Linked DNA regions of Homo sapiens. The protein of the gene in region 3 purifies or fractionates together with the protein of the main gene of each other region. This does not show direct contact. Each region holds a gene or a part of one and is shown on either strand. Other genes may lie near its edges.

Region 1 (8,041 bases), on a different chromosome or scaffold from region 3:
ATTTGTTTCTGAATCTGCAAGTCTGAGTGATTAGCACCAAATCAATCGTTCTCCTTAAGAGTACCAAAGGTAGTATCTTCACTCTGAACGTCTGAAGTGGTATTAGAATTATTTCAGGACTCACAGCTCTTAGTTCATTCAGAACAGAAATCTGGATTTATTCATCTTGCCTTATATATAATACGTTCTCAATAAACATTTGTTGACTAAGTGAATAAATTAAGTAAAAAACATTTCGTTAAGAATTTTCACAGTATTTTACATTATGGCACCCTAACAAGGAGCACTTTTATCATATTCTATGTTTATAATACTAGCCCTATATCTGAAAGACTGATTTTTAAAATAAATTTAATTGAAGTTGATGATGTGGGAAAATATATCAAACGGAAGCAATAACTTTAAACAGATTTTATTGCAAATCTGGTGCCACTATAAATCCTCGCTCTGCCCATCAACCTTCCCTCTCTTTGTCTCCTTCCCATTGCCTCTCCCCAGCCTCCCCCAGGTACTCCCAGTCTCATTATCCCATGATCTGTTAAAACTGCAGTTTACCTCCTGGAACCAGCAGAAACACATGTCACTGAGAATTAGGGAATTGGAGCCAGTTACAAGCCACCAAATAGGGTCACAAAGTATCTGAACCTGAAAATTAAGAGTTTTTCTATTTTGCTAAACATGAGAAAAGGGGAAAAACTCAGTTGGACTTATTTTTAAACATTTGAGCTAGATGGATTGCACAATGTTAAGAATTTATGACAAATGAGATGGGAGACAACTTTAACAGCATGTTACTCGCTAATCATTTGAAAAGTGGTATGTTTGATTTCATTTGCTGATGGTGGGAGGATATTATCTTAAAACATCTACCACAAATAAACACTTGCTATTCTTGAAAACAAATTGCTTGAAACTGGTATGTAGCGAGACAGTACTCACGTATTACTTCATCCAAGGTATTTTATGCCACACTTTATCCCAAGAAGAATAACTCCATTTTAAATTTGTATTAGCATTTATGTTAATTCTAACCAATGTTAAATAGCAACTAGGTACCAATCATGCTGCCAAATATTGATGCAGTTTAAGAAAAATAAGCAAGAAGCTACCGCTCCTTCTACATACCCCTTAAGATGTGTACTTTTGCCAAATGCTAGGCTGTATGTAAACAAACGGATTTTAAAAGAGGGGATAGGGCTGTCAAGATTCACAATTTTATGAAAATGAAAATGATTCTCATCTGCTGGGCGCGGTGGCTCACGCCTGTGATCCCCACACTTTGGGAGGCAGAGGTGGGTGGATCACCTGAGGTCAGGAGTTCCAGACCAGCCTGGCCAATATGGTGAAACCCCGTCTCTACTAAAAATACAAAAAATAGCTGGGCGTGGTGGCGGGAGCCTGTAATCCCAGATACTCGGGAGGCTGAGGCAAGAGAATAGCTTGAACCCAGGAGGCGGAGGTTGCAGTGAGCCGAGATCGCACCACTGCACTCCAGCCTGGGCGACAGAGCCAGACTCCGTCTCAAAAAAGAAAAAAAGAAAAAGAAAATGACCAGCTTGAGAAAACTGGCTTCTGTTAAGGCTTCTTGAAGCATTCTCTGCAGAAGACTTTAACCCCAAAGGTGACCAAAACGCTGAGGCAACTGAAAAAAACTACCGCCTCTTCTGGGAAATCCTTTGTTTCTTTTCATTGGCATTATACTCTGGTCCCTTTTGCAGAGCATCTCCTTGTCATAAACATGCCAATAAACAGGACATGGGTGCTGCTGGGTTGTACAAGCTCTGCTCTTCACCTGGGTTAGGAGGCACAGATTTGTTCTTGTAACGCTCGAGAACAATCACTTCACTGAATTTTCTAACTCCTTACCAGGAAGTAAATGTTTTATTCGTCTCCCCTTTTCGGGACAGAGGGGGATTTCAATTGCTGCCCTAATAACTAATCTCTCACCATTTTCTTCTGTCCGTGATCAAAACGGTAACAAGGGAAGGGAAAAGTTGGGTTTTTTTTTTTAATTTAGTTGGTTATTGCTTTAATGCTGAACTCTCAACGTCAAAATGTGATCACAAATTGATTCGCAGAAGGAAACAAATAGAAAAAGCCTCGGGAAGGAGGGGAGAGGGCGTCGCAGACGCTCAACAGGGAACTGGGTTTAGGGGCTCGCGGGGTGGCGTCTCGGACCCGCAGCTCAGTCGCCAAGGAAACGCCGCGCAGGCGCAGAGCGTGCCGCCGCGGGGCCGGGGTTTGCCTCCACCACCCCGCGCCGCTCGGGCGCTCTTGGTTCTTCCCAGGAAAGGGCAATGGAGTATATCCTCCTCGCGCTGAGCACACCTAGTCTCTAAGAGGTCCTGAGCAGGGTCACCGGGCGCAGGAAAAGCTGTGAGACTCCCCAAGTGTAACGGACGCTGCACTCCCCTTGCTGGGAAACGCGGACCTGCTCTCCTGGCGGCGTCTGGCGGTCAGAGAGAGGGTCCCGGGACCCCGCGTGAGGGTGAAGCATCCTGCAGCGAGGCTGGACCTTCCACCGGGCGAAACGCCACCCACCACCACCGCAAGGGACCCGAGAGTTACATTATTTCGCGGACACACACACCCACCCTCATCCTTCTGAATTATGGGACCCTGAAGAGCGGCCGTGGCCAGTTCCCCGCACGGGGCCTTAGGGGATCCCCACGCACAGCACTCACAGTCCTAAACAGGCGTGTGCCGGCTGTGGCTGCCGAGAAAGGAACTTGGGCCACCTGCTCACTCGCTCATCGGACTGGCGTACCAGTTCTCTTTTTCCTGCACACCCCCTTCTCTCCTGGGCCCCTTCTTCCCCCGAAAGCACTGACCTCCTCAGCTTTGAGTGTTCAGTAGCTGAAGGACTCCTCGGAGTCCGTGGCACAAGGAGCCACCTCCGAAGTGCTGGGGTGATGAGTTATTGGCCCCTGTGACTCCAACTCCAAACCCCTGCCAAGGGCCAGAAAAGCCCCCCTAGAAGAGCACTTCTCCCCACTAGCCAGCAGAAGCCCCAGACGAGCGGGGAAGAGCAGGGCGCCGCCGCCACAACCTGCTTTCTCATTCAAATCCTCACGCTCACACAGGAGCCCCCCTCCCTCTCGGCCCCGCAGCTTCCGAGGAAATCAGGAACTGGAGTTGCGGAGAGCGGACTGGAGCGCCTGCTGCCTCCTCTGGCCCGGGCGGGATGGGTGTACGGAACCCTAGGGCTGCACGTGGAACCCCAAGGCTGCACCTGGAACCCTTGGCTTACACTCTCCTGCGGGGCTCCCCGCTTGGCAAGGGCCAGAAGCACTGGGAATGAAGTACTTTTACTCCCCCGCAAGTTTCAAAAGTTTCGAAACCCAGGGTAACCCCTCGGGGCTGTAGCCAGAGGGCCTCGGTGGTGGGGGGTAAAGGAGTTGGAGAAACAAAGTTGGAAGTGAAGGGCGCAGGGAATGGGAACTGCGTGCAACTTGCACCAAAGTGAAAAGTGTTCTCAAACGTCCGTCTTACCTCCTTTAAAAAAAAAAAATTTCTAAGAATATAGCATCTGTCGATGCCGCAAATTAAAGAGATCTACTCTGAGTGAATGGGAACTGCGTGCAACTTGCACCAAAGTAAAAAGTGTTCTCAAACGCCCGTCTTACCTCCTTTAAAAAAAAAAAATTTCTAAGAATATAGCATCTGTCGATGCCGCAAATTAAAGAGATCTACTCTGAGTGAAGTGCAACTAAAATTGAGAGCGTGTAAATGGTAACACTTTGCTTTTATTTACCCCCAGTCTCTTCATTTGGAAATGCTACTCCTTGGCATTAACAGGCCACTTATTCACTTAGATCCGTTTAGTGGCTGGTTGACTCAAGCGGGCAACCTGCCGGGAGTAAGAAGGCGGCGGTGGCAGAGGAAAGCTTGCACGAAGCAGGCACTCAAGTGTTGATGAAACGATGAAATCTACTGAATGCACTGAAAGGATGAGTGACCAGCTTGGGGCGGATGCTGGAACCGCCGCTGGCCTAGACGGCCGCGGTGTGATCCGGCTTCTGGATTCCAGGATTTACATTTATCAGCCTTCATTCAACCTGCCCTATTGTTAGTTCAAAGCCTGGCTGGGAAGGAGTGGGGACGCAGCTCTTCACTCACCTTTCAGTTTAAAATAATCCTCCAATAAGAATGTCCTAGGAAAGCTGGCAGCATGGGGTTGGCAGGGATTTTCTGGGCTTAGTGACAACATAAACTAAAGTCATTTTCTTTTTTCATGCGTGAATTTGCCCAGGAAGTTACAAACGAGTAAGTTACAAATGAGTGCCTGAGATTGGAGCTCAGGGCCTTGGCTGCCTGTTCTCTTTGACAGACAGTGTGGAGGGTGGTAGCACTGTGACCTCTCAGCGCAAGATCTAGGGTTTCACCTTTTCATCCCACTTAGCCGATACCATAGAAACAACCCATTTGTATTATTCAATTCAACAGAGGCAATTACAATGTCACAGCAAAGCACCATGGGCAAGAAGAAACTTTGTCCTGAAAACAATCCTAGACTCTCAGAAAAAAGAAAAAAGCCACCAGAATACCCACTTGAATTTCTTCCTGCCAATAGTACCAGGAAGAAATCAATTTGGAAAAAATGTAGGTAAGGTCCTTTGCCTCTATAGAAAGAAACCTCCCCAAATTTACTTGTTTTTGTTTTTGTTTTTTTGCATGCCCATACACAAGCCTCAATTTATAAGAAATTAAGTCATTAACCCTCTGCCTCCAAACTGCTTTATATTTTGTAAACAAGCTTGTTGGAGATTTGTTTTGCTGGTAACCTCCATGGTGAATAGAAAAGCCAAAAAAAAAAAAAAAAAAAAAAAAACCACCAAGATAATCCCTCAACAGCAGCAGTTCACCCCCTAACCTCCGGTGTTTGTCTTTCTTGAGTCTGAAAAAATGCAGATGCACATGTTGAAATAAACTCAGACACAAAGTTCATAATAAGAGCACTTGTTTGCTATGCATTCTTTATTTTGATAGTTTTAATCAACTCCCATAATTTTGTAAACTTTTAAATTTTTAAATTGTGTGATATTTCAAACCTACCAAAAACAGGATATATACCATGTAATACTCCTGCTCCCCCCAGCCCTTCTTTTTTAAATAAAGCATTACAGATATAGCTAAACCCCAACTCCTGACTCGTTACCCCCACCCCTTCCCAAAGGTAATAATTCTGAAGTTGGTATGAATCATAATTATGCATGTTCTTAAATGTTTAGGACATTTATACATCCATAATCTTTTAATGTAGCTTTTCTCTCCAAGTCGTTTTAACATTATTTATCTGAGAAAAATCACTAAAACAATTAATTAATTAATTGGAGAAAATCACTAAAAACAAGAAAATGTGTTACATTGCTAAGTTTTTAGAAGCAGGACAGAACTATTTTTCCTGCTTGTGACAATCAGAGTATGGAATAATAACAAAGGGATTAGACAGTGGGTAATAAGCAGCCTCTCTAGGTTACACAAACTCTTCCATGGTTACCAAAGAATAAATAGAAAAACAAAACAAATAATACCCTCCTCTTTCACTGGTTAAAGGGGAACTGGAGAAAATGAGATCTTCATTAAAACTTCTTTGGGCAGGTAAGACAAACATCCTACATGGTAGTAAAGTACCTTTTCTAGAGGATCTCTTGGTCATGCAAGCTATGATCTTTTAGTAAGGATTTACCACTTTTCCAAGTATAAAGAACTCCTGCTGGTAGCTCAATACAAGGTTGAAATCCGCCTGGCTGAAAAGTCTGGGGTTGAATTAGCCCTGCCTCTTCAAGCACAGGGACATCCATCTGTACAGTAGTTACAAAAATCTTTTGCTGTGATTCTTTGACTTAATGTCCTCCCAGCATTAAAAGTGCTAAGAAAGCATCAATTTTTCTTAAATGCCATTGAATGGTGAAAGGCATCCTTCCCAACCCCCACCCTCTTCATTTCCTAAGCGATGACTCTCATTAATTATACTGGCACACCACTGCCCAGCCTCCCTTCTAAATAGCTGCCAGATTTCTACATATCATCTCTGCCTTGATACAGAATGTGCACTGACACCAGGATCACAGAAAATCCTGTAAGAGGTGCCTGATACACAGTAAAATGATTGATGTGCCTTGTGGTGAGCCTGCTGTGCTGCGTATCGTAGGGGGTTTCTTAGAAAACTGCACTGGGAATTTCTGTGTTGGAAAAAGATTTTTCTAGCTGTGCAAAAATTGTGCTTCCAGTTGCAAAAAGAGCCATTTATTTAAGGTGTTCAAATTTAAACAGCAACCATCTTGAGTTATATCCACGAGCAAGAGAGGAAAGGAGATAAATGTTCCCTATTTTAATCAATGCACCAAGTTAAGAAAACCATTGACCAAAAAAGCGTATCAAGGAAGAGGCACTCCTCTTTCAACACATATTTCTTTAGTACTTGCCATGTACCAGGCACTGCTCTAGGTGGTAAGCCTTAGCTGGAATATAGATAGCACTCCTGAAGTAGAGCGTAGTACCTGTCTTTATGGCCCTACTCTACAAATTGGTCACGGCTTTTAGGTACAAATAACAAAACCCCTTATCAAACCAGCTTGAGTAAAAAAAGCTGATGTATTGACTCCCACTTTAAGATAGGGGGAAGGATAAGGACTTCAGAAACGGTGGGAGTCTAGCAATTCAGAATCAGCATTTCTCTTGTTAAAGAAAAAATTAGTCAGTGTTAAAGCATGGTAAGGAAGGCTTTATCCAGCACGATCGAAATCGGCACAGGGACTACTGCAAGGAGCTCATGCAGAATACAGCATAGGCAGCTTGGAATTTATAGACAAAGAACAGATGGGGTTGCTGGATGAAAAATCACTAAGAGGAAACATCAGGAATATGAGGAACTCTAGCTAACCCGACATAACTGGATTCTTGCTGAACACAGGCCAGGGAGATCAGACATGACCTGGGCAATAGTGGAGGATGAGGGATCTGATCAGATATTGAGAATGATCAGATATGGAGAGTGGGGGTTCTTGCTAAACTGACTTGGCAGAACTCTTTTCTAAAACTGAGTTTTACAAGAAAACGCACATATGGGCCCAGGAGAAGGCTCAGAAGCATGACTAATGTTTGTTTGGCCAAGCAAGGAATTTTTGTCACTCTCACACTTTCACCTTTGCTCCTACTATTTCCCTGTCTCTGCTTTTCTCAGTGTTTTGATCCTATTCTCTCCTATTCCATATGAGCTTTCTGTACAAGCTGGGGGTGGGGAGAGCATGACTAGAGACAGCTCCAGGTTTCAATCGTCTCAGCTAGAGAGGCCTTTTTGCTTTTACCATCTGTAAATAAGATGGTAGGAAAGGATTCGAACTGACCTGACTTAGGTCATGTGTCCATCCATAGGTCAATTACTGTGGACAACAATAAGTAGAGTATATGTGTGGCCAGATCCTGATTATACACACACCCTTATGGCCAGGAAGGCGGGGTATTATAAGTAGCAGCCCATCAGAACTGCTTGGAACCAGGGAGGATTTGTTCCCAAGATGAAAGGGGCTGGTCCTACCAAGTGAAGGCAGGAAGAGATTCTGGCAAATAAAAAGAATAGATATGGGCTGGGCACGGTGGCTCACACCTGTAATACCAGCACTCTGGGAGGCTGAGGCGGGTGGATCATGAGGTCAGGAGTTCGAGACCAGCCTGGCTAATATGGTAAAACCCCGTCTCTACTAAAAATACAAAAATTAGCCAAGCATGGTGGCAGGCACCTGTAATCCCAGCTACTCGGGAGGCTGTGGCAGAGAATTGCTTGAACCCGGGAGGCAGAGGTTGCAGTGAGCCAAGATCGCGCCACTGCACTCCAGCCTGGGTGACAGAGCGAGACTCCGTCTCAAAAAAAAAAAAAAGAATAGATGTTCCCTAGGCTGCCCTCTCTTAAATCTGCTGCCAAAGAAAGAAACACCTTTATACTGATTCATATGTATATGACTTAATCTACAAAGTAGATCAGAAGAGGAATTTCCTAAATCCATCATGGGAGACTGAGGAGAGAGGAGTAGTAATGGCC
Region 2 (7,970 bases), on a different chromosome or scaffold from region 3:
CTCCCTGCTGCAACATCCCAAGCATGGGACATGCCTTGACATTCATTTCCCTTAACATAGCACAGATTTGGCTTATAGCATTTATCAGGACTTTACTGAGGACTCCTGACAATACAAATTAAAGAGAATAAAGAATAGTCTGGTAAGACACCCTCCTTCCCCGCTTCTCTTTTTTTGAATAGTTATTGAGTACCTACTATGTGCCTTAGGAACTCCTAAGCAAAAACAGAAACAGCCCTTGCTCATGGATCTCACAGTTCAGTGGAGGAGGGAGACAGACATTAACTAGGTAACCACACAAATAAAAATTGTTATAAGTTGATAAATGCGTTGAAGAAAAAGTAGGGAGTCCTAAGTAAAGGGGATTTACTTAGTCTGGGGAGTTAGGACGAAAGTTCCTGAGGAAGTGACAGTAGAGTTGAAAGGTGAAGGATTCTTGGGCATTCAGCTGTTAACAGGGATGGACAGAGAAAGAATATTGGATCCTGAAGAAACAGCCTGTGGAAGGTGATGAGGCAGGCAGGGTCTGGTCCTATTTTGAGGAACTGAAAAGGGGACAGTCTGAAAGGGAGAATGATATGAAAGCAAAGGAGAAAAGCAGATTATGAGGAAAACCATGAGAAGCCACTGAAGGATTGTAAGCAGGGGAATGGCATGGTCAGATGCAGTAGAAATGGCAGCCCTCTGGAGATAGAGTGCACATACTTCAACCAGCAGGCAAAAAAGACAAATCCTGGAAGCAAAGGAACGGTGCTAGGAGGAGAAATATGAACTCTGTAAATGGGATAAATAGAACGTCTTCTATTTTTTAGAGTATTAAAAAGAATCAGCAACATCCACACAAAATTTGTATAGGAATATTCAAAGCAGTATTATTCATAATAGCCAAAAAGTAGAAACAACTGAATTGTCTGTCAACTGATAAGTTGGCCAATAAAACTGTGCTATATACATAGAATGGAACTGTTATTCGGCAATAAAAAATAAATGAAGTACTGATACACGCTTCAACATGGATGATCCTTTAACACATGCTAAATGAACGAAGTGAGACCCAAGAGACCATGTATTGTATGACTCCATTTATATGAACTGTCCAGAATAGGCAAGTCTTTTTTATTTTTTATTTTATTTTTATTATACTTTAAGTTCTAAGGTACATGTGCACAACATGTTACAGAGGTATACATGTGCCATGTTGGTTTGCTGCACCCATCAACTTGTCATTTACATTAGGTATTTCTCCTAATGCTATCCCTCCCCCAGCCCCCCAACCCCCTACAGGCCCCGGTGTGCGATGTTCCCCGCCTTGTGTCCTGTGTCCATGTGTTCTCATTGTTCAACTCCCATCTATGAGTGAGAACATGCGGTGTTTGGTTTTCTGTCCTTGTGATAGTTTGCTTAGAATGATGGTTTCCACCTTCAGAATAGGCAAGTCTTTATAGACATAAAGTTGATTGGCTGCTACTGAGTATGTGAGTTTCTTTTAGGGAGGAACAAAACTTCTAAAATTAGATTTTGATGACAGTTGCACAACTGTAAATCTACCAGAAGCACTGAATTGTATGGTAAATGGATTACATCTCAGTAAAACTGTTAAAAAACACAGTTTTAAAAAGAATCCAGGAACTGGGGACACAGCAGAACTGGATCTCAATCCTAATTTTTTCTCACTTTGTATTAATGTACTGCAAATAATTGTAGCTAGCACAAGAGAGCACAATGACTGTCTTGCTAAGGTGAGTTGGGAGGATTTATTTCGGGCTCTGTTAATACATGTTCGATTGGGAGAGTTGGGCCCAGAGTTCATCTAAATTAGTAGTACCAAGCAGCTGTTTCAGTTAATCATTATGAGGGCTGTAAACACTCAAAAAATACTCAATTAACATTTTAAAAGAATGGTCCTACTTTGTTAAAATAGTACTTTTTCTCTTTTTGGCGTTTTTCCTTTTAAAAAGTAGCCCTATGTATCTTGAAATCTTGCTTTCGTTAAAATTAAGGTGTTAGCTTAACTTTAGGATATTGCCTCAGACCTTTTAAAAAATGTATTTGCTATCTAGTTCTTAAACTCTGATTAGGAACACATGAATCATTATTTAATACTACACAGGTTCAAAATAGCTTAAGAGAGATGGAATTCGAGGTTGAGCAGGTGGCGGTGTTTCCGTTTTCACACTCTGAGAAGGCCAAGGTTTCTTAGGGAAGCATTCCTGGTATCTGTATCAACCGTTTTCAGAGTTATTCAGCTGGTGTGTGTGTGTCTAATTTCATTTGGGTTGAGCCGCTGACTCTGTTAGGTTTTCATAAAAAATCATTTCATTTCCCTTTCCAGCTTCCGTCCTACTGGTATGTGCATGTTAAAGTGTAATTCAGGCTTAACTACTTTAGGTGTAGGCTAGTTACATTGCTTTGTTTTATGTATGAGGAAGCTGAGACTCAGTGGTGATAAGGAACCTTGATTTGGTTGTATCACTAATGACAGAGCTTCGAGTTGGAACTCATCTCCTGATTCGTTTCTTTTGGTGAAACATCCTCTTGATTTCTGAGCTTTCAACCTCTATCTTTTCAAATCTTACACTAAAGAATAAGTATCTGCGTAGAATTTCATTTTCTGTTCCCAGAATTGACTTTAAGAATAGACAGAAGAGGTGGTTGTCAGTGTAGCATAATGGAGGGAAAAAAATTAAAGATGGGCCCTTCCTTTTCAGCCATTTGTTTTCCCCCAGGTAACAAAAGAAAATCCTCCATTTTATTTTTCCTAGTAATTAGGAGAAATCCACATGTTTCAACAAAGGCAGAAACAGCATGAGGACTCTGACCTAATGGATTTTAGAAATGTTGAGATCATAGGAAATTAAATTAAATTTCATGACTGTCTCTCACCTGGCCTATAAATCTCCTAATCTCCCTTACTTCTGCTTTGGCCTCTTTAAGACCCATTCTTTTCAAAGACGAGACTTTTTTTTTTTAAAAAAAAGTAAACTCTGGGTGTCTCTCCCCTATTAAAAACTCTGTAATACCTTATATTGCGTTTAGAATAAACTTTCAATTCCTTTCTTGGCTAACAAAGCCTTACAGGATCTGGCCCATGCTAGTTTCTGACAGAGCAAGAGCATCACCATCTTGGACAAGCACCGCCATTTTAAGTTCCCCTTGATTAAAAACCGCCTAAATCCAGCCCCAGAAACATCAGCCTAATGGCTAATGTCAGCATGACCATAAACCACAAATAACACTTCTGACCAGAAACTTTCCAACCCTGAGATAAACCCCACTCTGATCAGAAATATGCCTCCCCTCCAACCAGAGACATTACACCCCTGACAATAAAACTCTCCTCCACCCAGAAACATTCCAAGTCTACAATATGCTCTCCCTCCCTAAACCACTAAATACCTTTAGTCTGTAAGAGAGAACACTCCTGACCGAAATCGGCCAGAAGCCCCTCTCAGGTTTATTCTCCAAAATAAACCTGTCTCTGTTAAGCTGCTTTTTGTGTTTCTTTCTTTAACTCTTACAGTTTCCATCTCCAGGCTCAAGAAAGTTTACTTTCTCATTTCTTCTTCCCTCAAATGCACTAGAATAGATCCTTACTTAGGGCCTTTGAATTAGTGTTATCCTTTTCCTGGAATGCTCTATGCTCTGATTTTTGCGTCTGTTATTCAAATCGCTGCTAAAATATCTCCTCCTTAAAAGGGCATCCCCTTTACTAGCCACTCAGTCACCATCACCATCACGTCACTTATTGTAACTTCTTTGCATACAGCTTAAAACCAACAGATTTTTTTTCTTTTCACCCTCAGATAAGTTCCCTAGAATCTACACTACTTGTCTTCATCATTGTTCAATCAACAGCCTAGAGTAGTGTTTGTTGAATGAAGAAATGAACAAACGAATGCACCCTTTCTTCCGTGACCCTCTCCTCTGAACAGGGCAAAACTTAACTCATAACGAGGATACACTCAAAAATGTCTTTCTTATTGCCAGGTGTTTCCACTCTTGAGGAACAGATGCCCTTTAGGAGACAGGGCAATTTGACTGGACTGGCCCTTCCGATTTTAGGTGAAAATAATCACCATAACAGCTTTTCATCTCTGGCTAGGCTTCCCAGTGACCAAAGCTTTACTTTCCGATTTCCATACCACGTAAAGACATCAGGGTGAGCACTAGGGCCCTGAGAACCCTGGAAGCTACTTCTTGGCTGGGATAGGGCTGGTTGCCCGGTGCGCTGTGAGTGGTCCTCCCCGGAGATGCTGGGAGAAGGGGCGGAGCCATCAGAAAGGATGAGCCTTCCTTGGGCCTTCGGATCTGGTGGGGCTGCCACTTTGGGAAGGGCCCCGGGCTTCGGAAGAAAGCAAAACTAGCCTTGTGGCGAAGAAGGAGCCCAGCTGGCCCCAGGCTGTTAAGACTAAGGGGTCGAGGGAAAAGAGGCAGAGCCTGAAACCAAATCTGCGGAGCAAGCCAAGGCCTGGGGACTTGCCAGAGGGAAGGGTTAAGCCGTTTCCAAGGCAACGGACCAGGAAGCGCGCAAGACGTCCGCCGCAGGTTCGTAGGTCGCCCTCGAATTTAAAGCTCCCAAGGCTGAGTGGGTCCCGGCCAATGGAGAGGCCCCCTTTAAGTCATGTGACCAGCGGGGCTGCCCCGCGGGCTGCTCCGCGGGCTGCACTGGAGCACGTGGGAAGGCTTTTTTTCCTGTTCCTTCTTTCCCTTTTTAAACGCCCACCCACTTTTGCGCGGGCTCGGCCGCGGAATTTTTCTCGCGAGAGGCGCGCTGCCCTCTCGCGAGAGAGAGTGGGAGGCGTGGAGAGTAGGCGGTGTTGCGGGCCGGAGCTGCGGCGGCGGCGGCGGCGGCGGAAGCCGAGGGGTGGGCAGGGCGGGGGCGGGCCGCGGGGCTGGGAGGGGGAGGGCTGGGGGTCAGCGCGGGAGGGGGCCAGCTTGCTTGCCCGGCTCGCTCACGGGTCGTTGAGGCCGGTGACATGTCTGTGAGCTGCGGAGGCTGCGGCCCCCAGGTGAGCCGGGCGCCGACGTGCTCGCCGCGGAGGCTGCGTTTAGATGGGGTGGCGGCGGGTGTGCGGCCGGCATGGATGGAGCGGCCCGGCTCCGGCGCTCCAGCCCCTCCGCCTGCCGCTGGTCCCCCTTCTGGCTTCGGGGCCGCCCGAGAGCTGCGCCTTCGCATGGCGGAGGGAGGAGGGCGGGAGGAGCGCGGCCGAAGGAGGAAACTCACCGCACCGGGCCCAGAGTAGAGGGAGGTGCTGGGTCTCGAGACGCGTCTTCCTGGGGTCCCAAGTGTGGCGGTGGAGCTGCCGCCCCTTTTAATGACAGGCTGTTTCCATCCCCGGGGTGGTCTTCAGAGACGGCCCCCCGGGTGCGTGGTGCGCGTGCTTAGTGTGTGTTCGTGGTGTGCGCACAGGAACATTTGCAGCGGTTGGGAGGACGTTGCACTTTGTTCCCGAACAGCATCCTTCACTGTCAGACCCCCGGAGCCTTGGAAGCAGGCGCTGCTCAGATCTTGTAAACGGAAGGCGTCAAGGGGCTCCTCAGAGTATTGATATTTGGATTTGCTGTCAAATACTCTCCTAGGCTGTTAATGGCTTAAGGCTGGCCATAAAGTACCCCGAATGGATTGAGTATACTGCTGTTAATCCAGGCATCTAAGCTGCTTTATAAAAAATATGTAGATGTAACCGAAGTATTAAAAAGTGACAATGACAGTAAAAGCTAACATTTTTTCTCTTCCCCATATTACCAGCTTTCATTTTTTTTCTCTGCTTTGTCTGTCTTCTAAAACCATATAAAGTTGGATGTGGTTTAGCTTTAGATGTTAAGGAGTTTCATGGTGAGAAAGACTGCTGAGATACATACCTAATAGCTTTAGTACAAACTGGAGTTAATTCCTGTTCTCTTTTCAGCTTTTCAATCGCTTGCAAAATGCTCGTTTTGCTTAGCTGCTTCCCACTGTTTTAGAAATGTCATGTCGATTGTTATTTTGTTATGTCTGAAAATACTCAAAATATGGAGTACTAAGAAAAAATGGGGTATCAGTAATGCACAGATATATTTTTTTTAATGTCATCATTTTAGGATGGCAGCCCAGTGCCTGGCATGATTGGTGTCAGTTAAAATAGTGCAATTGAATGATTTTTTTTTTTTTTGAAAAACACATTTACTTTTTCAAACGGTACCCTGATTATTCATTTTTTCTTGTCGTTGTTCCTCCTGACAAAACTGACCCAGGGGTGGACAGTGAATGTCACTATTGTAGCTGTAACAGTAATTTATGAAAGGTCAAAGAATGTAAGGAAATCAGGGAAGAAGTGGGTTCCCAAGCTGAGCTAGAGACTAATGTATGTACCCACATAACTGCAGTATCGACAATATTGATAAGGGCCTAGCAGTGGACTCCTAGGCCAGTGATATTTTGCAGTTGTTGAGGATATGGGAAGTTGCCTAAGACATGGAACCATAGTGAGAAATTCTCTAGCCTTCTCTAGCCCCCTGAACTCCAGGGATAAGTCTAGAAGCTGAAGAAGTCCTCTTTTGCCTTTAGAGGCTGGAAAAAATACGGTACTTTTAATTTTTTTATTTTTTAATTTTAGGAACTTACTGTCTGGAAAAGGAACTCAAACCAATTTGGACAATATATTAAAGGCCGTTTTAAGAGAAAATGCCAGTTGTAAATAGGTAGAGGAATTCTGTCTATACGTGACAAAAATGTGAAAGACTTAGAAAATATCTCTTTGTGAATGGGCAGAGGAGACCAGTGTTGATTAGAAAAAATTCCTTCTTACTCCATCTTAGCAAACTAATTTTCAGAAGTAGAAAAATAAATTTTTTGGCTGGTCTTCATAACCTTTTGGCAAGGGTTTCAAACTTGTAGGGCGTGTGGTGTTTGGTTTTTCAAAAGTAATTGAAGTAACTTTGGATAGGGTAACTGATTTTGTTTTTTTTCCTGTCTTGTGGTCTGCATTTTATTAATCAACTACCTGGAAGGATTGAAGGGTGAGGACAGGTCGAGAAAAGCTTTAAGTTAAGCCTGGGCATGAGTTAAGGGTCAATGAGCTGGTAATATGGGGAAGAGAAAGAAAAATGCTTTATCAGTTTAAAAACAGCCTGGAAAGATCCAAGTGTCTCGATTCTCCCAGTCATCCTTACATATAAAAGTTTATTAAAAAAATACTTCTGGGCCAGGCTTGGTGCCTTACACTTGTAATCCCAGGACTTTAGGAGGCTGAGGCGGGTGGATCACTTGAGACCAGGAGTTCAAGACCAGCCTGGCCAACATGGAAAAACCCTGTCTTTACTAAAAAATAAAAAATTAGCCACGTGTTATGGCACATGCCTGTAATCCCATCTAGTCGAGAGGCTGAGGCACAAGAATCGCTTGAGCCTGAGAGATGGGAGATTGCAGTGAGCCGAGATCGTGCCACTGCACTCCACCCTGGGCGACTGAGTGAGACTCTGCCTCAAAAAACAACAACAAAAAACTTCTGGAGTAAAGGCATTTGAAATTTGTAGATTAGAGACTGGACATGGTAAAAGGAGAAAAGTTATCATTTTTAGAATAATCTGAGAATGTTTCTTGGGAAATAAATGGGGTAGAGGCCTGGAACAGAGAGGATGTTACTTGACTGAAAATGAGGTATATTGTAAAGAGTTTCGGTTTGGGAGTCAGGTCTATTAATTAAATGAGCCTCATTTTCTTCATACCCACCTCAAAAAGTTAGTGCGAAGCACATAGTAGCTGCTTACTCAGTGTTTTTATTTTTACCTCCCGTAATGGTTTGAGGATTCTTTGATTGCAAGGAAGAAAAAGCCAATTTAATTAGCCTACTTAAAAAAAAAGCATTTGTCATACAGTGCTGCTGAAGTCCATTGCATGATTCCAATTCAGCGTTTTGGGAACCAGAAAGTCTTCAGGCAGTTACTCTTCCAGTTTTTCTCTGGAAGCACATGGTCTTATGTCTCTGCTA
Region 3 (7,100 bases):
TTCATGCTGGTGTTTTCCAAATTAGGTTGTGACCATGTGTGATCATGACATCCAGGCAGAGGGCTGGCATTTTTCCGAAAAAGGGTAGAAAATGTCAGAGTATGGTGTGTGTGTAGGCAGGGTCAGTATTGGTCACTGACCCTTACACTGCAGTGGCATTTGTGAAATAGGTCAGGGTCACTGGTCACGTTGTCTAAGGTGTTATCCGAGCTCGTTTCACAACCAAGAGAATTAAAGAGCATAGACCACCCAAAAGGTGAGGTTGGAGCGAAAGTTTAATAAGCAAAAGAAGAAAGCTCTCCACAGAGGAGAGGGAAGCCCAAGCGGGTTGCCATTTTTACAGTTGATTCCAAAAGCTTTTTTTTTAAAAAATTATTTATTTATTTATTTTTTATTATTATACTTTAAGTTTTAGGATACATGTGCACAACGTACAGGTTTGTTACATGTGTTTATATGTGCCATGTTGGTGTGCTGCACCCAGTAACTCGTCCTTTAGCATTAGGTATATCTCCTAATGCTATCCCTCCCCCCTCCCCCCACCCCACGACAGTCCCCGGTGTGTGATGTTCCCCTTCCTGTGTCCATGTGTTCTCATTGTTCAATTCCCACCTATGAGTGAGAACATGCGTTGTTTGGTTTTCTGTCCTTGCGATAGTTTGCTGAGAATGATGGTTTCCAGCTTCATCCATGTCCCTACAAAGGACATGAACTCATCATTGTTTATGGCTGCATAGTATTCCATGGTGTATATGTGCCACATTTTCTTAATCCAGTCTATCATTGTTGGACATTTGGGTTGGTTCCAAGTCTTTACTATTGTGAATAGTGCCGCAATAAACATATGTGTGCATGTGTCTTTATAGCAGCATGATTTATAATCCTTTGGGTATATACCCAGTAATAGGATGGCTGGGTCAAATGGTATTTCTAGTTCTAGATCCCTGAGGAATCACCACACCGACTTCCACAATGGTTGAACTAGTTTACAGTCCCACCAACAGTGTAAAAGTGTTCCTTTTTCTCCACATCCTCTCCAGCACCTGTTCTTTCCTGACTTTTTAATGATCGCCGTTCTAACTGGTGTGAGACGGTATCTCATTGTGATTTTGATTTGCATTTCTCTGATGGCCAGTGATGATGAGCATTTTTCATGTGTTTTTTGGCTGCATAAATGTCTTCTTTTGAGAAGTGTCTATTCATATCCTTCGCCCACTTTTTGATGGGGTTGTTTGTTTTTTTCTTGTACATTTGTTTGAGTTCATTGTAGATTCTGGATATTAGCCATTTGTCAGATGAGTAGGCTGCAAAAATTTTCTCCCATTCTGTAGGTTGCCTGTTCACTCTGATGGTTAAACTAAAGAGCTTCTGCACAGCAAAAGACACCAAAAGCTTTTATAAGAAACTCCTTTCATCTCTGTAGCTGTTTGAGTATCTTATCTGTAAAGCTATCTGCATAACTCTCCGTTATCTATGTAGTTGTGGGTACGTCTTTAGGCAAGCACAAAGCTCCGCTTCTCTTGTTTCTGTAACCGTGGGTTTGTTTTAGGTAAGCTCCGCCCCTCCCCGTGCAAGTTCCCACAGAGACCACCATGTACGTGCCTGAAAAGGGGAGGGAACTTTTCCTGGGAGCCTGTCAGTCACGCAAAGAACAAAAGGCTTCTGTGCTGGGCAGCTTGAGTTTTCCCCAGGCTGCTCTATTGTTGCCTGTAGCTGTGATTTTTCAGGCAGGCTGCTCCTCTGAGGACCACCCTTAACTGTCTACCTAACTGGTTTTTCCTTTTCTTCTCCTCATTTGTATTTATGTATCAGTGTATTATGTATTTATATACACTTGGAGATACAGTAAAATGTACCTCTCACTGTGGGTTACCATAAATACTGTAAATTTGAGAAACACTCTTTCAGGCCTGAGAGGAGCAGTGACAACAGTAGGGATGATCAAGTCAGATGTCCCTGGTACCCAGGAATGGCTGGATGAGAGAAGGAGACAGGGTGACCTGCCCCTGCCTACAAACTCTAACCCAGTTCTGTCCCTGGAGCTGTGTGACCCCGGACAAGGCCCTGCCCCTTTCCAGGCTGTCGTTGTCCTCATCCAGCCTGGGAGAGGGTTGGCGCTGAGGCCCCCACCTTCTTGCCTGTTTCCTCCTGACCCCACCCCTTCCCCTCCTGCTGGGCAGATCCGAGTGAAGCCTGACAGGACCGGTGTGGTCACGGATGGTGTGAAGCACTCCATGAACCCCTTCTGTGAGATCGCGGTGGAGGAGGCTGTGCGGCTCAAGGAGAAGAAGCTGGTGAAGGAGGTCATCGCCGTCAGCTGTGGGCCTGCACAGTGCCAGGTGATGAAGGTCTTGGGGAGGGGGCTGGACTCCTGGGTCTGACGGAGGAGGGGCTGGGACCTGGACTCCTGGGTCTGAGGGAGGAGGAGGCTGGAAGTCTGGACCCCTGGGTCTGAGGGAGGATGGGCTGATAGCCTGGATTCCTGGGTCTGAGGAAGAAGGGGATGGGGGCCTGGACTCCTGGGTCTGAGGAAGGAGGGGCTGGGGGCCTGGACTCTTGGGTCTGAGGAAGGAGGGGATGGGGCCCTGGACTCCTGGGTCTGAGGAAGAAGGGGATGGGGGCCTGGATTCCTGGGTCTGAGGAAGGAGGGGATGGGGCCCTGGACTCCTGGGTCTGAGGAAGGAGGGGCTGGGACCTGGACTCCTGGGTCTGAGGGAGGAGGAGGCTGGAAGTCTGGACCCCTGGGTCTGAGGGAGGATGGGCTGATAGCCTGGATTCCTGGGTCTGAGGAAGGAGGGGATGGGGGCCTGGACTCCTGGGTCTGAAGAAGGAGGGGATGGGGGCCCGGACTCCTGGGTCTGAGGAAGGAGGGGATGGGGGCCCGGACTCCTGGGTCTGAGGAAGGAGGGGATGGGGGCCCGGACTCCTGGGTCTGAGGAAGGAGGGGATGGGGGCCCGGACTCCTGGGTCTGAGGAAGGAGGGGATGGGGGCCCGGACTCCTGGGTCTGAGGAAGGAGGGGATGGGGGCCCGGACTCCTGGGTCTGAGGAAGGAGGGGATGGGGGCCTGGACTCCTGGGTCTGAGGAAGGAGGGGATGGGGCCCTGGACTCCTGGGTCTGAGGAAGGAGGGGCTGCGAGCCAGACTCCTAGGTCCCCCTGAGGATAGCAGCCAAGTCAAGCCCCTCTGTCCTTGGCAGGAGACGATTCGTACCGCCCTGGCCATGGGTGCAGACCGAGGTATCCACGTGGAGGTGCCCCCAGCAGAAGCAGAACGCTTGGGTCCCCTGCAGGTGGCTCGGGTCCTGGCCAAGCTGGCAGAGAAGGAGAAGGTGGACCTGGTGCTGCTGGGCAAACAGGTAGCTGTGGTCAGCCCTCCCTGTGCCCCCTTGCTCATCCCTGCTCGGGAGGAGGGTGGTGGAGATACGGGGTGAGACAGCAGCTGGCCAGGCCCAGGGCATTCACCACTCCAGGCTGAGCAGCTTGGGACTTTGCTGACCCTTCTGACAGAGAGTTTGAGCAGGGAGGACAGAGTCCCTCTGGGTGTTAGAAAGATCCTCTTGGGCCAGGCACGGTGGTTTACGCCTGTAATCTCAGCACTTTGGGAGGCCGAGGCCAGTGGATCACTTGAGGTCGAGAGTTTGAGATTAGCGTGGCCAACATGGTGAAACCCCATCTCTTCTAAAAATATAAAAATTAGCCGGGTGTGGTATCACCTGCCTGTAATCCCAGCTACTTGGGAGGCTGAGGCATGAGAATCACTGGAACCTGGGAGGCGGAGGTTGCAGTGATACAAGATCGCACCACTGCACTCCAGGCACCACTGCACTCCTGCCTGGGAGCAGAGCGAGACTCTGTCTCAAAAAGAAAAAAAGAAGAAAGATCCTTTTGGGTGAGTTTAGAGGCTGGGAGGCCGAGGTGATGGTCACATGGGGGAGAATGAGGCCTCAGCCAAAGGTGACAGGACAGAGCAGAGACATGATGTGGCAGGAGAGACTGGGCTTAGCATGGGGAGGGAGGGCAGGGAGGAGGCAAGGACAGTGCCTGGGTCTGCCTTGGTAACACAGGTAGGAAACCCAGGAAGAACAGGAGGTTAGAGGAGGATCCTACAAGGGGAGTGTGAAGAGCCCAGGAGACATCGATGCAGGTTCAGGAGACAGGCCTGGGCTTGAAACAAAGACTTGAGAATTTTGGAGGGCACTGGGGAGCTATGGGAGTTCTATGAGCAGAAGAGGGGTGGGATCAGCACTAGGTGCAGAAAGAGCCCCCCTGGGCTTTGAGAATGGACTGGAATGGGAAATTGGAGGCCAGGAGTTAGGGAAGGAGGTTAGGGCTGGGTGAGGACCCGACCAGAACCTTCCCTGCCACACTGGTGCTCCCCACTGAGATAGGGGTACATGGAGCTCATCTGTTCCCCCAGGAGACCCTCGGGCACCACCTCTGCTCAGGGGTAGCTCATCTCATTTGAGGGCAAACCTCATGGCCTCAACCAGGGAAGGGGCAGAAGAGGGACGTCAGAAGAGCCACAGGCAGATGGGAGTGAGAAGAGGCAGGGAATTAGGGATGAGGCTGAGAAGGAAGGCCAAAGACTGCAAGGTATGTCAAGCAGAGCACGGAGACAGCAGAGCACAGCAGGCTCAGGTAGAGCTGGGGCCCCCGGAGAGAGATGGGGATCCCAGGGCCAGGTCAGTTCTGGGACAAAGAGGAGGCTGATGGGTCCAGGTAGGTCACTGGGTGTCCTGCCCAGCCCTGAGAAAGTCAGAAGAAAACAGAGAGAGATTATCAACAGCAGGGGCATCAGAGTACAGATCAGTCAACTGTGGCCGAAGGGCCTACCCGGAGAACAGGCCAAAAAGGCAGGGCCTGGGTGGGGCTGCAGAGGCCGAGGTGCTGGAAGCATGGCCTTTGCAGCCCCCTGCATTTGCTGGTCGTTCTCAGACTCCGATGTCCTACCTGTCCTGGGCCAGGGACAGTTCCTGGGGCCAGGGCCTCCAGCTGGGGAAATGCCGGATGAACTGGTCAGGATGCTGTTTGTTCTAGGAAGCAGATTCACAACTCAAACTGGCTTAAGCCAGAAAGCGAATTTATTATCTCACGTAAATCAGGGGCTTCAGGCACAGCTTGATCCAGGGTCACATATGAGCTGTAGGCTCCCCTCTACCTTGTCTTCACTGTCTGCATCTCCAGGCTCAGATCCCACCAGCCCAGTGACCCCAGCAGAAAGAAAGGAGCATCTTTCCCAAGGGCCCCAGCAAACTCCCAGGGCTGACTCTTCTTTGGTGCAGCTTGAGTCATGTGCCCCTCCCTGAACCAATCACTGGGCTGGGGCTAGAATGTCCTTGCTGGCCCAGACCCTGTTCATGCAGCTGCCCAGGGGCCACATAGGGTGGGACTCCTGAGAGGCTTTATACAGAGGGCAGAGACTTGACGACAGGGATGCCAGGTGGCCCCACATGTCCCTGGACAAGTGGCTGCTTATCTCTGGGCCCAAGTGAGGGGATCGTTCTAGACCAAAAGTCAGTGAACTATGGCCCAGAGCGACCTCTGATTTGTAAATAAAGCTTTATTGGAACATCACCACATACATTCATTTACATATTATTTATGGCTGCCTGTGTGCTACAACAGCAGCGCTGAGTCACCGTGACAGAGACCGTATGACCTGCAGAGCCTGAGATATTTACTACATCTGTTCCACCATAGAAAAGGTTTGCCAACCCGACTGGCTGCGGTGACTCATGCCTGTAATCCCAGAGCTTTGGGGGATCATCTGAGGTCAGCAGTTCAAGACCAGCCTGGCCAACATGTTGAAACCCTGTCTCTACTGAAAATACAAAAATTAGCTGGGCGTGGTGTTGGGTGCCTGTAATCCCAGCTACTCAGGAGGCTGAGGCAGGAGAATTGCTTGAACCCAAGAGGCGGAGGTTGCAGTGAGCCAAGATTGTACCATTGCACTCCAGCCTGGGTGACAGAGCAAGACTCCGTCTCAAAAAGAAAAAAAAGAAAGAAAAAGTTTGCCAACCCCTGTTCTAGACAGAGGCCTGAATGGTCCATGAGCTCCACTGATTGTCATACAGTCTTCTGTCTCTCCCCATTCAGGCCATCGATGATGACTGTAACCAGACAGGGCAGATGACAGCTGGATTTCTTGACTGGCCACAGGTGAGACTGGAGTGGGGAGCACCTGCTGAGGGCCAGGCCCTCATCCCTCAAACTTCATTTCTGCCTCAAGGCCTTTGCATTTGCTGTTCTCTCCTCCTGGAACACTGTTCCCTCGGATTGCCTCATGGCTTTCTTGTTCCCCTCCTTGAGGTCTCTGCTGAGGTATCACCTCTTCAAAGGGGCCTTCCTTGCCATCCTACGTGAAATACTCATGCCCACCCGCTCAACTCTAGGTTCCCCAGTCCCCATCTCTGCCAGTCCAATAGAAATGCAGGCTGGGGCCAGGCATGGTGAGTCATGCCTGTAATCCCAGCACTTTGGGAGGCCGAGGCAGGTGGATTACTTGAGGTCAGGAGGAGTTTGAGACCAGCCTGGTCAACATGTTGAAACCTCGTCTCCACTAAAAATTTAAAAATTAGCTGGGTGTGGTGGCGTGCGCCTGTAGTCTCAGCTACTCAGGGGGCTGAGGGAGAATTGCTTGAACTTGGGAGGCGGAGGTTACAGTGAGGCAAGATCGCACGCCACTGCACTCCAGCCTGGCAACAGAGGGAGGCTCCGTCTCAAAAAAAGAAAAAAGAAATGCAGGCTTGGCACAGTGGCTCACACCTGTAGTCCTAGCACTTTGGGAGGCCACGGTGGGAGGATTACTTGAGCCCAGGAGTTCGAGACCAGCCTTGGCAACATAGTTAGACCCCATCTCTACCAAAAAAGAAAAGTTAGCTGGGTGTGATGGCACATGCCTGTAGTACCAGCCTCAGGAGGCTGAGGTGGGAGGATCCCTTGAGTTCAGGAGGTCAAGACTGCAGTGAGCTGTGATCATACCACTGTACTCCAGCCTAGGTGAAAGAGGGAAACCCTGTCTCAAAAGAAAAAAAAAAAAAGAAGCAAGGCACATAGACAAATTTAAAATTTTTCACAGCTACATAAAAAAGTAAAAAGA

The links.
Region 1: the proteins of ETFB (region 3) and PLCH1 purify together in Homo sapiens (affinity purification with mass spectrometry; 2 studies listed by BioGRID and IntAct, with this or other methods). This does not show direct contact.
Region 2: the proteins of ETFB (region 3) and AKAP11 purify together in Homo sapiens (affinity purification with mass spectrometry; 2 studies listed by BioGRID and IntAct, with this or other methods). This does not show direct contact.

Annotation. Positions count from the first base shown.
Region 1 is NC_000003.12:155,742,009-155,750,049, forward strand, and holds the start of PLCH1 (1-phosphatidylinositol 4,5-bisphosphate phosphodiesterase eta-1), read right to left. Parts: upstream 3,064-8,041; 5' UTR 2,832-3,063; intron 1-2,831. UniProt on the Homo sapiens protein: The production of the second messenger molecules diacylglycerol (DAG) and inositol 1,4,5-trisphosphate (IP3) is mediated by calcium-activated phosphatidylinositol-specific phospholipase C enzymes.
Region 2 is NC_000013.11:42,267,220-42,275,189, forward strand, and holds the start of AKAP11 (A-kinase anchor protein 11), read left to right. Parts: upstream 1-4,932; 5' UTR 4,933-5,009; exon of another isoform or gene 5,010-5,542; intron 5,543-7,970. UniProt on the Homo sapiens protein: Binds to type II regulatory subunits of protein kinase A and anchors/targets them.
Region 3 is NC_000019.10:51,349,389-51,356,488, reverse strand, and holds part of ETFB (electron transfer flavoprotein subunit beta), read left to right. Parts: intron 1-1,646; exon of another isoform or gene 1,647-1,850; coding exon of another isoform or gene 1,851-2,180; coding exon 2,181-2,339; intron 2,340-3,198; coding exon 3,199-3,357; intron 3,358-6,097; coding exon 6,098-6,160; intron 6,161-7,100. UniProt on the Homo sapiens protein: Heterodimeric electron transfer flavoprotein that accepts electrons from several mitochondrial dehydrogenases, including acyl-CoA dehydrogenases, glutaryl-CoA and sarcosine dehydrogenase.